Linked DNA regions of Homo sapiens. The protein of the gene in region 1 purifies or fractionates together with the protein of each later gene. This does not show direct contact. Each region holds a gene or a part of one and is shown in the gene's direction. Other genes may lie near its edges.

The links.
Region 2: the proteins of SZRD1 (region 1) and MTMR2 fractionate together in Homo sapiens (co-fractionation; one large-scale study listed by BioGRID). This does not show direct contact.
Region 3: the proteins of SZRD1 (region 1) and NT5C2 fractionate together in Homo sapiens (co-fractionation; one large-scale study listed by BioGRID). This does not show direct contact.

The regions. Positions count from the first base shown.
Region 1 is NC_000001.11:16,365,792-16,370,090, forward strand, and holds the start of SZRD1 (SUZ RNA-binding domain-containing), read left to right. Parts: upstream 1-1,450; 5' UTR 1,451-1,466; coding exon 1,467-1,517; intron 1,518-3,301; exon of another isoform or gene 3,302-3,760; intron 3,761-4,299.
Region 2 is NC_000011.10:95,847,592-95,851,240, reverse strand, and holds part of MTMR2 (phosphatidylinositol-3,5-bisphosphate 3-phosphatase MTMR2), read left to right. Parts: intron 1-491; coding exon 492-641; intron 642-1,378; coding exon 1,379-1,567; intron 1,568-3,341; coding exon 3,342-3,527; intron 3,528-3,649. UniProt on the Homo sapiens protein: Lipid phosphatase that specifically dephosphorylates the D-3 position of phosphatidylinositol 3-phosphate and phosphatidylinositol 3,5-bisphosphate, generating phosphatidylinositol and phosphatidylinositol 5-phosphate.
Region 3 is NC_000010.11:103,186,730-103,190,378, reverse strand, and holds part of NT5C2 (cytosolic purine 5'-nucleotidase), read left to right. Parts: intron 1-3,132; exon of another isoform or gene 3,133-3,254; intron 3,255-3,649. UniProt on the Homo sapiens protein: Broad specificity cytosolic 5'-nucleotidase that catalyzes the dephosphorylation of 6-hydroxypurine nucleoside 5'-monophosphates.

The DNA.
Region 1 (4,299 bases):
GTATACACTTGGGGAACTGAGACATAGAATCCTTATGTAACTTGCGTTAAGATCACACAGCTTTTTTTTTTTTTTTTAGTAGAGATGGGCTTTTGCCTCGTTGCCCAGGCTGGTCTCAAACTGCAGGGCTCAAGCGATCCCCCCGCCTCACCCTTCCAAAGTGCTGGGATTATAGGCGTGAGCCACCATGCCCGGCCACATAAATAACTTTTTTTTGAGATAGAGTTTTGCTCTTGTTGTCCAGGCTGGAGTGCAATGGCGCAATCTTGGCTCACTGCAACCTCCGCCTCCCAGGCTCAAGCGATCTTCCCGCCTCAGCCTCCCGAGTAGGTGGGATTACAGGCATGTGCCACCATGCCCAGCTAATTTTGCATTTTAAGTAGAGACGGGGTTTCTCCGTGTTGGTCAGGCTGGTCTCGAACTCTTGACCTCAGGTGATCTGCCCACCTTGGCCTCCCAAAGTGGGATTACAGGTGTGAGCCACTACGCCTGCCCTGACATAAATAATTTTTTTTTTTTTTGAGACAGAGCCTCACTCTGTCGGCCAGGCTGGAGTGCAGTGGCATGATCTCGGCTCACTGCAACCTCCACCTCCCTGGCTCAAGCAGTTCTCCTGCCTCAGCCTCCGGAGTAGCTGGGATTATAGGCGTGTGCCACCATGCCCAGCTAATTTTTGTATTTGTAGTAGAGACGGGGTTTCACCATGTTGGCCAGGCTGGTCTTGAACTCCTGACCTCAGGTAATCCGCCTGTCTCGGCCTCCCAAAGTGCTGGGATTACAGGCGTGAGCCACCGCGCCTGGCCAGTAATTTTTAGAGGTAATACTAACGTATTTATCTACCATTAAAGACCCAGGAGAACTTAGTAGCTGGGAATCCCACTGGTTCTCCCAACTGAGGTGCAATATTATCTTTACCGTCTTTACCTTACGGTAGCGGATATAGTGTTAATAAATGATTAGAATACTGCTTTATGAGCAGGAAATACTGTAATGATTTTCACCCTATCAGAAATAATAAAATGTTTTCTGCATCAGCAGATATTTTTCATCATTTGTTGGTGTTTAAAAATGTTTTCAGAATTCTGAAGATACCATTATCTGTAGTTTAGGAAAACTACGACTCACTTTAAAAGAAAAAAAGTTTTCTTTAATTGCCTGCCCTTAGAAAAGATGGTTCCACAGAACACACTTCCGGTACTCGAGATGAGGACTTCCCTTGAACGCCCATTCTGTAAGACAGATAACGCGTTGGCCCTTAAGAAAGATGGCATCTTTCCGCCTTCTCTGCCCCCTTCCAAGATGGCTGCCCTAATGTACACTTGGGACCTTGCCTGGCGCCTCTTCCGGGCTTGGCAGCGGGCGGGGTCCATTGAGTAAAGCCTTGCGTGCCTGCGCCCGCGACGGAGGCGCGCTTCAAAGCGCAGGCGCGGGGAGGGGGTGGGGGAGGAGGGAAAGCGGCGAGTAAGATGGAAGATGAGGAGGTCGCTGAGAGCTGGGAAGAGGCGGCAGACAGCGGGGTAAGGAGGAGCCGCCGTCCCATGGCAGGGCCGGGCGAGACCTGGCGTGAGGGGAGCCTCCGGGGAGCGGGTCTGGAGATAGTTCTCCCCAAGGAAGGGCCCCATACGCCGGGCTGGGGGTGGTGGAGAGGCCCCCAGTTCCTGAGCGCCGTGAAGGCCTCTTAAAGGGGCCGCGATCCATTTCTCTCCTTTCCTTTGCCTGGTGCGCCTCCCTCCGCCCACTAACGCGCGCGTCACCCGGGGCGCCCCACCCGCCACCCGGGGCCTCCTTTCCTGACCCCCCGCGCCCACTTGCTGGCCGTGGGCCTCTGTGACTCTTTCCGATGAGCCTTGTGGCCCGAGGCACCATTTTAAAGTTCTTGTGCTCTGACCGGGACGGACACACCATGTGGGTGGTGGTGGGGCTTGCGCGGACCAAGGAGGCATGTCCGGCTTCGCAGGAAAGCGGGAGGAGGCAGCCGAGGGCGGGGGGAAATTGAATCCTCTTTGGGCTACTCAACTCTGCTAAAATCCCCCACCATCCGTCACGGTGGACGAGTCGGGTTTTTTTTCTCTTTCACTTTTACTCCAAGAAGAGTTTGTGGGCAGGCAGGCAGGTCTCACGGGGACTCTGCCAAAGCAACCGAAAGCTCTGCGGGGCAGCTCCTCTGCCACTCAGCGATCCGAGGCCCCGGGAAGGTCTAGGAGTTCGCTTGTCGGAGTCCAGGGTGTGATATGTAAAACAGCCACATTCTTGGGAGAGGAGTGGGGAGATGGACCGTTCGACTTGTTTTTGGAGTTTTTGTTTGCCTCCAGAAACTGTAGGAAAATAGTTTATCTCAAAGAGGATCTGTCAATTCTCTTAGATTTGTGAATAATTTGGTCTTTTCAGAGTTTGTCTGTGGTGACCCTTGTGAATATGGGGAGATGCTTTTTTTGTCTCCCCGTGTTCGCGTCTGTTCAATGCTGGCTGCACTGACATCCACCTTAAAGGTTTACGTGTGCGAGGAGTCGAGCGTACCAGGGTAGAGTAGGCGCTGGGTTTTTTTTCCTAAGCGCTTTTTGGGGGTGCTTATGAGCTCTGGAAGAGGCCGGGAAATTGACCCTGGCAGCAGTCAGTGGGTGTATCTAGCTCTACGGGAATGTTGAAACTTGGCTTTGAAGTTTTTTCCGCTGGTTCAGCATTTCTCTCAACGGTTGTTTATGTTTTTCCATTTAGCATAATTGAGAATTTGAAGGATTCGTTCGTTCAGAGGATATTTAGTAGAGTTCTTAATGTGACAACCATCTTTCTTGAGTTTTGGCTTAAGAAAGTTAAAGATTTTATAGGGAGTAACAGGTGTCAGTTGGCTCCTTGTTCATTCAACCAGCATTTTTGAGTGTCTGCTATATGCTAGGCAGTGTGCTTATCAGTGACTTTGTGCCAGAAAATGCAACATTTTCGGTACAGGCGTTTATTGCCTACCACTAATCTGAGTGAATCATCCAGACATCCCTATAAAAAAGCTTGGCTTACAACTTTAATATCATGCAAATGATACGTTTCTTGGGCATCTTGGCCTTTCTTTGGTTTTCCTCACCTGTTTCAAAGGGTCATAAATCCCTCATGTTAGAGAAGTTGGAGGCAAATGAACAAAAATGAATAGGATTCAGCAGAAATTGGGGCTTACTTTAGTTTTTCAGAATGGGTAAGTCAATTAGAAATAGCTAGTACAGTCCCCCATTTAACAGCTGAATAAGCCTAGAGATGTGAGATTTAGAGACTTAGGTCTTTCTGACGCTTGTCGCGTGTTCTTTCTTTTTTCTTTTGGTTCCCAAGTTTTATTGAAAAACTTATACAAAATATTCCAGATAAATGAAATTTAATCCTCATCTTCCTCCTCTTTGTCCTGGTTAATCTGGAAGTAACATAATTTGTAGCTATCTTTGCTGTTAGTAACTAGGAGCAACCAATCACGTAAATTATTCTTCATATATGTTTTGGTGAGATATTTGAAATACCTTTTGGAGAAAGGCACCTCGGATGTCACGTTGATCTTGCTCTTACTCCTTTCAATGGTCGCCATCCCTCCACCAAGGTTCTCAGCTTTTCCGTTCACTTTGATCCTTTCTTGCAAAAACTGCTCAAAATTGGCAGCATCCATGATTCCATCTTCTACGGGGTGAGTGCATTCAAGAGTGAACTTCAGAACCTGCTTCTTTTTTTTGCCCCCCTTCACCACAGGCTTTTTCACAGAAGCCATGGCAGCAGCGGAGGCAGAAAGCCAGAGTTCTTTCTGCTATCCCTTACTTTAGTAATATCCTTTAAAAATGTACCGCGGCCAGGTGCTGTGGCTCACGCCTGTAATCCCAGCACTGTGGGAGGCTGAGGTGGGTGGATAACCTGAGGTTAGGAGTTCCAGACCAGCCTGGCCAACATGGTGAAACCCCATCTCTACTAAAAATACAAAAATTAGCTGGACCCTATGGTACATACCTGTAATCCTAGCTACTTGGGAGGCTGAGCCAGGAGAATTGCTTGAACCTAGGAGGCGGAGGTTGCAGTGAGCCGAGATCATGCCATTGCACTCCAGCCTGGGCAACAAGAGTGAAACTCCATCAAAAAAAAAAACAAAAAAAAAAAACTACAGAGGTGGAACACAAACCTTGCCTTATTGACATCATGAACACTTCTGCCAAAATGCAGGTTCTCTAATATATTTTATTTAATTGAATCCTTGAAACAACCTGTTGAGGCATTGTCCCCCTTTTATAGACAAGGAAACGGAGGTTTCGAGAGTAACCTGTTTTGCGCAAGATCACA
Region 2 (3,649 bases), on another chromosome or scaffold:
AAATACAAAAATTAGCCCAGCATGGTGGCGTACGGCTGTAGTCCCAGCTACTCAGGAGGTTGAGGCAGGAGATTCACTTGAACCCAGGAGGCGGAGGTTGCAGTGCGCTGAGATCGCACCATTGCACTCCAGCCTGGGCGACAGAGTGAGACTCTGTCTCAAAAAAAAAAAAAAAAAAAAAAAAAGGAATATTTGAAGTCTTACTGTTTCCTTCCACCTCCTGAATATGCTTAGCACAGGTCCACACTGAATATTTAGTGAATTAATGTCTGTTATATTAACATCAAATTGGGTTCCACAAATGAATACGTATCCCTACATTAGAATATCTAATCCTGAAAGCCTGATACCACAGGCTGACAACAACTATCCCAACACTTTAGGAGATGGATAGTAGAGGTCAGAGAGATTGAACAGGATGGCTTCTGTCCTGGTGTCGTTTAATATTTTAGTTATATAGTAATTTGTCTTATGTTTCATTTCACATGTAGGGAATTCCAAATGAAAGCTGGAGAATAACAAAGATAAATGAACGATATGAACTTTGTGATACATACCCTGCCCTCCTGGTTGTGCCAGCAAATATTCCTGATGAAGAATTAAAGAGAGTGGCATCCTTCAGATCAAGAGGCCGTATCCCAGTAAGTAGGAAGTTTGGATGAGCCTTTGCAAGTGCTTTTTTACTCAACATAATGCTGAGATTAATGAGTAGGAGAATGGATTCAGGATATAAATAGCTACAGCAGCAGGTCTTTCATGGGGATATTGGAGATTGATTTATTTAGTAAAGTTAAAACTGGAAGAAAGACTTAAAGAGGCTTCCAGAGAGTGTGATATGGGTATTAGATAACTGCACAGAATTGCATGATTCTTCACTGAAAAAGTTTGCTGTGTGTATTAGTCACTATTTATTTATCTTATTGTATATTCTTTAGTCATGATGATAAATGTTCTTTTTTTTTTTTAAGTCCTAGAAAGAACACCTTACAGATTTATAACTGGATCTTAGAAAGATGAGCTTAAATAATTTTAGGTACAAAATTCATAGATTCTAAAGGCTTTTAGAACTGAGCAGTTTTACTAATATATTAAGTGGGGTTTACTTAGCCCTGTTTCACAGTATTTTTTTCAGGAGATAACATTTCCCAATAATCAAATACTTTCCTAAATCAGTATCTGACTAAAGAATTAGACCAAGTTTTCCACATCCCAGAATTGGCTTGAAGGAAAGGTGATGATTTTTCTTAGCAGCCTCAGATGTCCTTTCATGGCCAGGCTTTGGATCCAATTAGAAAGCAGAGCTTTACTGAGTACTGTTTTTGAGAATTATAAACAGAGAAGTATGTAAAAGGTGTGTTACCATTTTTTCCTCATTAAGGTTTTATCATGGATTCATCCTGAAAGTCAAGCCACAATCACTCGGTGTAGCCAGCCCATGGTTGGAGTGAGTGGAAAGCGAAGCAAAGAAGATGAAAAATACCTTCAAGCTATCATGGATTCCAATGCCCAGTCTCACAAAATCTTTATATTTGATGCCCGGCCAAGTGTTAATGCTGTTGCCAACAAGGTCAGATGGTCTCTTAGTAATTATAATTATGGTTTCATGAATCAGCTGAGTTTGGCAGGGCCACAGTGTAGTAAAAAGAGCTCAGGCTCTACAGTGGTAAACATATAGGTTCTTGTCTTGGCTCTTCAACTTGATGGTGTGATTTTGAGTTAGTTATTTAACCTCTTTAGACCTCAATTTGTTTATTGGTAAAAATGAGAATAATAATAGTTAACAGTGTTGTTTTGGGAGCAAAAATCATTTAATAAAAAATAATGCATAAACTTTTGCTTACTTACATAATAACTAGGTGTTCAGTTATTCTTAGCTTCCCACTTCTCCAAAGTTGACAACTAACTGAGCTTATGACTCACTGAAGTCCCTGTATAGTACTGCTCTAGGAATAGCGAACTAGTGTTCTCGGTGACTAGTGGTGCCCTCTTCTGACCGTCCTCCACCTGAACAAGTTATTCAGACTGAAGAATTGGCAGTTAGCTGTAGCTGATTGTTCCAGCAGAATAAATATTAGCATTGTGGAAATTGAAATTTTGGTTCAGTTGACCAAATCTATAGGAGGAGGGAAGGAGAGAGAAGACATAACTACAGCAGCAGGTACCATTACTGAAAAGCGCTCATCTTTTCAAGTGTACATTTCAGTGCTTTTAGTATATTCACAAAGTTGTACAACCATGCCACTACCTGAATCCAGGGCATTTTTATTCTATGTGTTTCGGTGACAGGTTCTGTATAGTTGTTACCACTGCTGTCTTTCTAGAATGTTGCAACAAATTTGAATTGAAAGTTCCTGTCTTATTCCCACTCTTCAGAAGTAATCTTTAACAGGTATCCCTTGAAATACTGTAAATTCTATAATTGTGCCAAACGATTTCCCAGACTCTCAGTGTCAGAAAGGAAGCTGAACTTCTGTTCTTTCAGTAGTTTGTTGCTGGTTATGAGTTGGTGGTTTTGTTGTTTCAAAGGTGTGGGTCATATAATCACTTAATTTTGTATAATTTACTGCTCCAGTATTTTCCTAATTTGTTTCTATTAGGGCTCTAAGAAGTATAATTTTACACGAGTTAGGTAGGAGATAGAATATTTTATTCATGAAATATAAAAAGATTAAGTCCAGAAAAATAAGGTTCTTCTTTCTAGCCATAGCTTATTTTGAACACCAAATATTTTCTCATTCTATTTTGTAGATGTAGATTTAAGTCTTTGAGAACATTGATGATGATAGCATTCTGTGCTTTTATCCTTGTTCTGTCTTTTTATTTAAAGAGAATTATGTGGTTAAAAAAGAAGCAGGTCATTTTGATTGCAAAGAGTTTATTTCTCAGATATGAAGATTAAAATGAGGTGAAGAGGCAGGGAGGTGAAGAAGCATAGGTGAACCAGACATGTGGTCTCAGCACATGAAACTTACAGTCTGGTAATTTCAGTATATATGAAAGGAAGTCATCTGTAAGAACTTATGTTTGGGTAGGACTTGGCGTATGGGCTGGGAAAATTTAGTGCTTTACAGTGTTTAAATACCTTCCTATGTGTTTCATATTTAATTTTAATAATGGCCATATGGGCAAGTCAGACTACGTATATATTCATTTTGTAAAGAAGAACACAAGAAAGCGAGTGGTTGTGCTAAATAAGTTGTCCTGAGCCATCCACATTTTCCTGTGGAGTTTTCCTTGTCTCCAGTAATATGTATCATCTTTTATGCTATTGGATATTTTATGTCACTTGTTTACAGATGTGCATTCATTTATGATTTTCCATGATGTGTGCTTTTTTCCAGGCAAAGGGTGGAGGTTATGAAAGTGAAGATGCCTATCAAAATGCTGAACTAGTTTTCCTGGATATCCACAATATTCATGTTATGAGAGAATCATTACGAAAACTTAAGGAGATTGTGTACCCCAACATTGAGGAAACCCACTGGTTGTCTAACTTGGAATCTACTCATTGGCTAGAACATATTAAGGTGGGTGTGTGTTACTATATCCCAAACAAAGACTCTCTCTACCCCTTTGTTTATATTAGCTTTTTACTTATAATTGCAATCAACATGAAGGTACCTTTCTAAACAATGAAAAATGGGTAAAT
Region 3 (3,649 bases), on another chromosome or scaffold:
AGGGTATGATTAATAGATTGTTCTCACTAAAAGGGTTTGGTAGAGCAGTAGTCTGAGATAAAACTGGAAAGAGAAATTCTGGTAAGCAGTTTACAAGTATGCTACATGGATTCTTTGCAATTAGAGCGGAGTGAATGACCACCTGAGGTCAGGAGTTTGAGACCAGCCTGGCCAACATGGTGAAACCCCATCTCTACTAAAAATACAAAAATTAATCAGGCGTGGTAGCGCATGCCTGTAATCCCAGCTACTTGGGAGGCTGAGGCAGGAGAATCGCTTGAACCCAGGAGGCGGAGGTTGCAGTGAGCTGAGATTGCGCCACGCACTCCAGCCTGGGTGACAAGAGTGAAACTCTGTCTCAAAAAAAAAAAAAAAAAAAAAGAAAGCCACAAAATTAATGCGGCAAACCGGCCAGGTGCGGTGGCTCACGCCTGTAATCCCAGCACTTTGGGAGGTCGAGGCAGGTGGATCACCTGAGGTCAGGAGTTCGAGACCAGCCTGGCCAACATGGTGAAACCCCGTCTCTACTAAAAATATAAAAAATTAGCTGGGCGTGATGGCGCCCACCTGTAGTCCCAGCTACTCAGGAGGCTGAGACACGAGAATCGCTTGAACCTGGGAGGCAGAGGTTGCAGTGAGCCTATATCGTGCCACTGCACTCCAGCTTGGGCGACAGAGCATCTCAAAAAAAAAAAATTCAGTAAACAGTAAAAGAAAAAAGTTAAAAAAATTATGACAGTCTTAATCTTTGTTTTTTTTTTCGTTTTTTTTTTTGAGATGGAGTCTCGCTCTGTCGCCAGGCTGTAGTGCAGTGGTGCGATCTCGGCTCACTGCAGCCTCCGCTTCCTGGGTTCAAGCGATTCTCCTGCCTCAGCCTACCGAGTAGCTAGGACTAAAGGCGTGTGCCACCACGCCCAGCTAATTTTTGTATTTTTAGTAGAGATGGGGTTTCACCATGTTGGCCAGGATGGTCTCAATCTCTTTACCTCATGATCCGTCCGCCTTGGCCTCCCAAAGTGCTGCGATTACAGGCGTGAGCTACCACGCCCGGCCCTTAATTTTAATTGTTAAAATTTGATAAAGAAGGTGGGTAGTAGACATATCAAATGATCATTATATTATTTTCTGTGTGTTTGAAATATTTCACAGTATTTTAAGATGAACCTAAAATAAAACATTAAAGAAACTCCATTAAACTAATGAGCCTATAAAAATATATATCCCACTGGGCATCTGTAATGAAAACATGCTAATACTCAGCAAGCTTACTGATTTTTTTTTTTAAGCCGTTAAATTTCAGGCATCAGATTTCAGTCTTCTCTTTCCAAGCACATAGTACAAGCAGGCTCTTTCATCCCACACTCTTTTTTTTTTTCCGAGACGGAGTCTCACTTTGTTGCCCAGGCTGGCTCGATCTCAGCTCACTGCAACCTCTACCTCCTGGGTTCAAGCAATTCTCCTGCCTCTGCCTCCCGAGTACTACAGGCATGCTGAGAATACAGGCATGTGACACTGTGCCCGGCTAATTTTTGTGTTTTCGGTAGAGATGGGGTTTCACCATGTTGGCCAGGCTGGTTTCAAACTCCTGACCTCAGGTGACCTGCCCACCTCAGCCTCCCGAAGTGCTGGGATTATAGGCATAAGCCACTGCGCCCAGCCCAAATTCGTATGTTATACAGAATTTTCTGATTTATAAATGTGGGCAACTGATCGTAAAAAATTGTAAAAAACACTGTGACCTCTACAGAATCTGGACCCATAAATCTGTTTCTACATCTGGAAGGGAACTTGAGAGTCTTCCACGTTCAATGCCTTCATTTGACAGATGGGGAAAGTGAATCCCAAAATGTTTTGCATTTTTTGTCTTTTATGCAAGAAAGTCTTCCCTACCTTTGATCCGTAAGGCTGTTCATCTCTATATTCTTCTGTAAATTGTATGGTTTTGCTTTTTCACATTTAGGTTTATTGACAGTGCGTATTTTTTTCTGCTTAGTTTATCTTTATTTTTTATTTATTTATTCATTTTTGATTTTTGCACTGTCGCCTGGGCTGGAGTGCAATGGCGTGATCTCTGCTTACTGCAACTTCCACCTCCTGGGTTCAAGTGATTCGTCTGGCTCAGCCTCCCGAGTAGCTGGGATTACAGGCGCCCGCCACCATGCCTGGCTAATTTTTTTGTATTTTTAGTGGAGATGGGGGTTTCGCTATGTTGGCCAGGCTGGTCTCGAACTCCTGACCTCGTGATCCACCTGCCTCGGCCTCCCAAAGCATTGGGATTACAGGCGTGAGCCACCGCGTCCGCCCTATTTTATCTTTAATATGATCAGCTAGTATTTGTGTTACATATTCTTTTTCTACCATTATGTTTGTCATAAAATTATGCTCTATAAATTCATAAGGACAGGACATGCTTTTGTTATGCTCTGATTTTGGGTCAGAATATTGTAGAAAATGAAATTTTTGAATTCATTTTAGTGTAAATATTTTACAGATTTCTGCTCTTCTACATTATTTTGTCTCATTTGCCTTTAAAGATGAGTAGTACATGTATTTGACTATCCTTGAAAAATATTTTGCACACTTTTTATAGCAGTCATATTAGAATCTAGTTAGGCATTTGTGTATCTCTATCTAGTTTGTTTGAGAGCTGCTAAGTAAACCAGCTAGAATAATAGTGTGTAGATTGAAATAGCTCAAACATTCTGTATCAAAATTATAAGAATTTTAAGTTATTTTAATAAGCATTTAACAGTATCATGCTGTGTAAATAAGACCAAGCTGTGGCTTGGAGAGTAAACATTAAAAGTTTTTTTTTTTTTTTTTTTTTAAGATGGATTCTCACTCTGCCCCCCAGGCTGAAGTGCATTGGTGCAGTCTCAGCTCACTGCAACCTCTGCCTCCCGGGTTCAAGCAATTCTCTGCCTTAATCTCCCGAGTAGCTGGGATTACAGGCGCCCACCACTACACCTGGCTAATTTTTTATTTTATTTTATTTTTAGTAGAGATGGAGTTTCTTCATTTTGGCCAAGCTGGTCTTGAACTCCTGACCTTGTAATCTACCCGCCTCAGCCTCCCAAAGTGCTGGGATTACAGATGTGAGCCACTGCAACTGGCCTTTTTTATTTTTTTAAGGTGGAGTCTCTCTGTGTTGCCCAAGCTGGAGTGTAGAGGTGCGCTCTCAGCGTACTGCAACTTCCGCCTGCTGGGTTTAAGCGATTCTCCTGCCTCAGCCTCCCTAGTAGCTGGGATTACAGGTATGCGCCACCATGCCTAGCTAATTTTTGTATTTTTAGTAGAGACAGGTTTTGCCCTGTTGGCCAGGCTGGTCTTGAACTCCTGACCTCAGGTGATCCGCCCACCTCAGCCTCCCAGAGTGCTGGGATTATAGGCGTGAACCACCGCCCCTGGCCTAACATTAGAATCTTTCACAAATCTGGTCAGTAAATGCCTTTTTTTTTTTTTTTTTGAGACGGAGTCTTGCTCTGTCACCCAGGCTGGAGTGCAGTGGCTCCATGTCAGCTCACTGCAGCCTCCATCTCCCGGGTTCAAGCTGTTCCTCTGCCTCAGCCTCCCTAGTGCTGGGATTACAGGCATGTGCCACCACGCCTGGCTATTTTTTTGTATTTTTAGTAGAGACGGGGTTTCACTG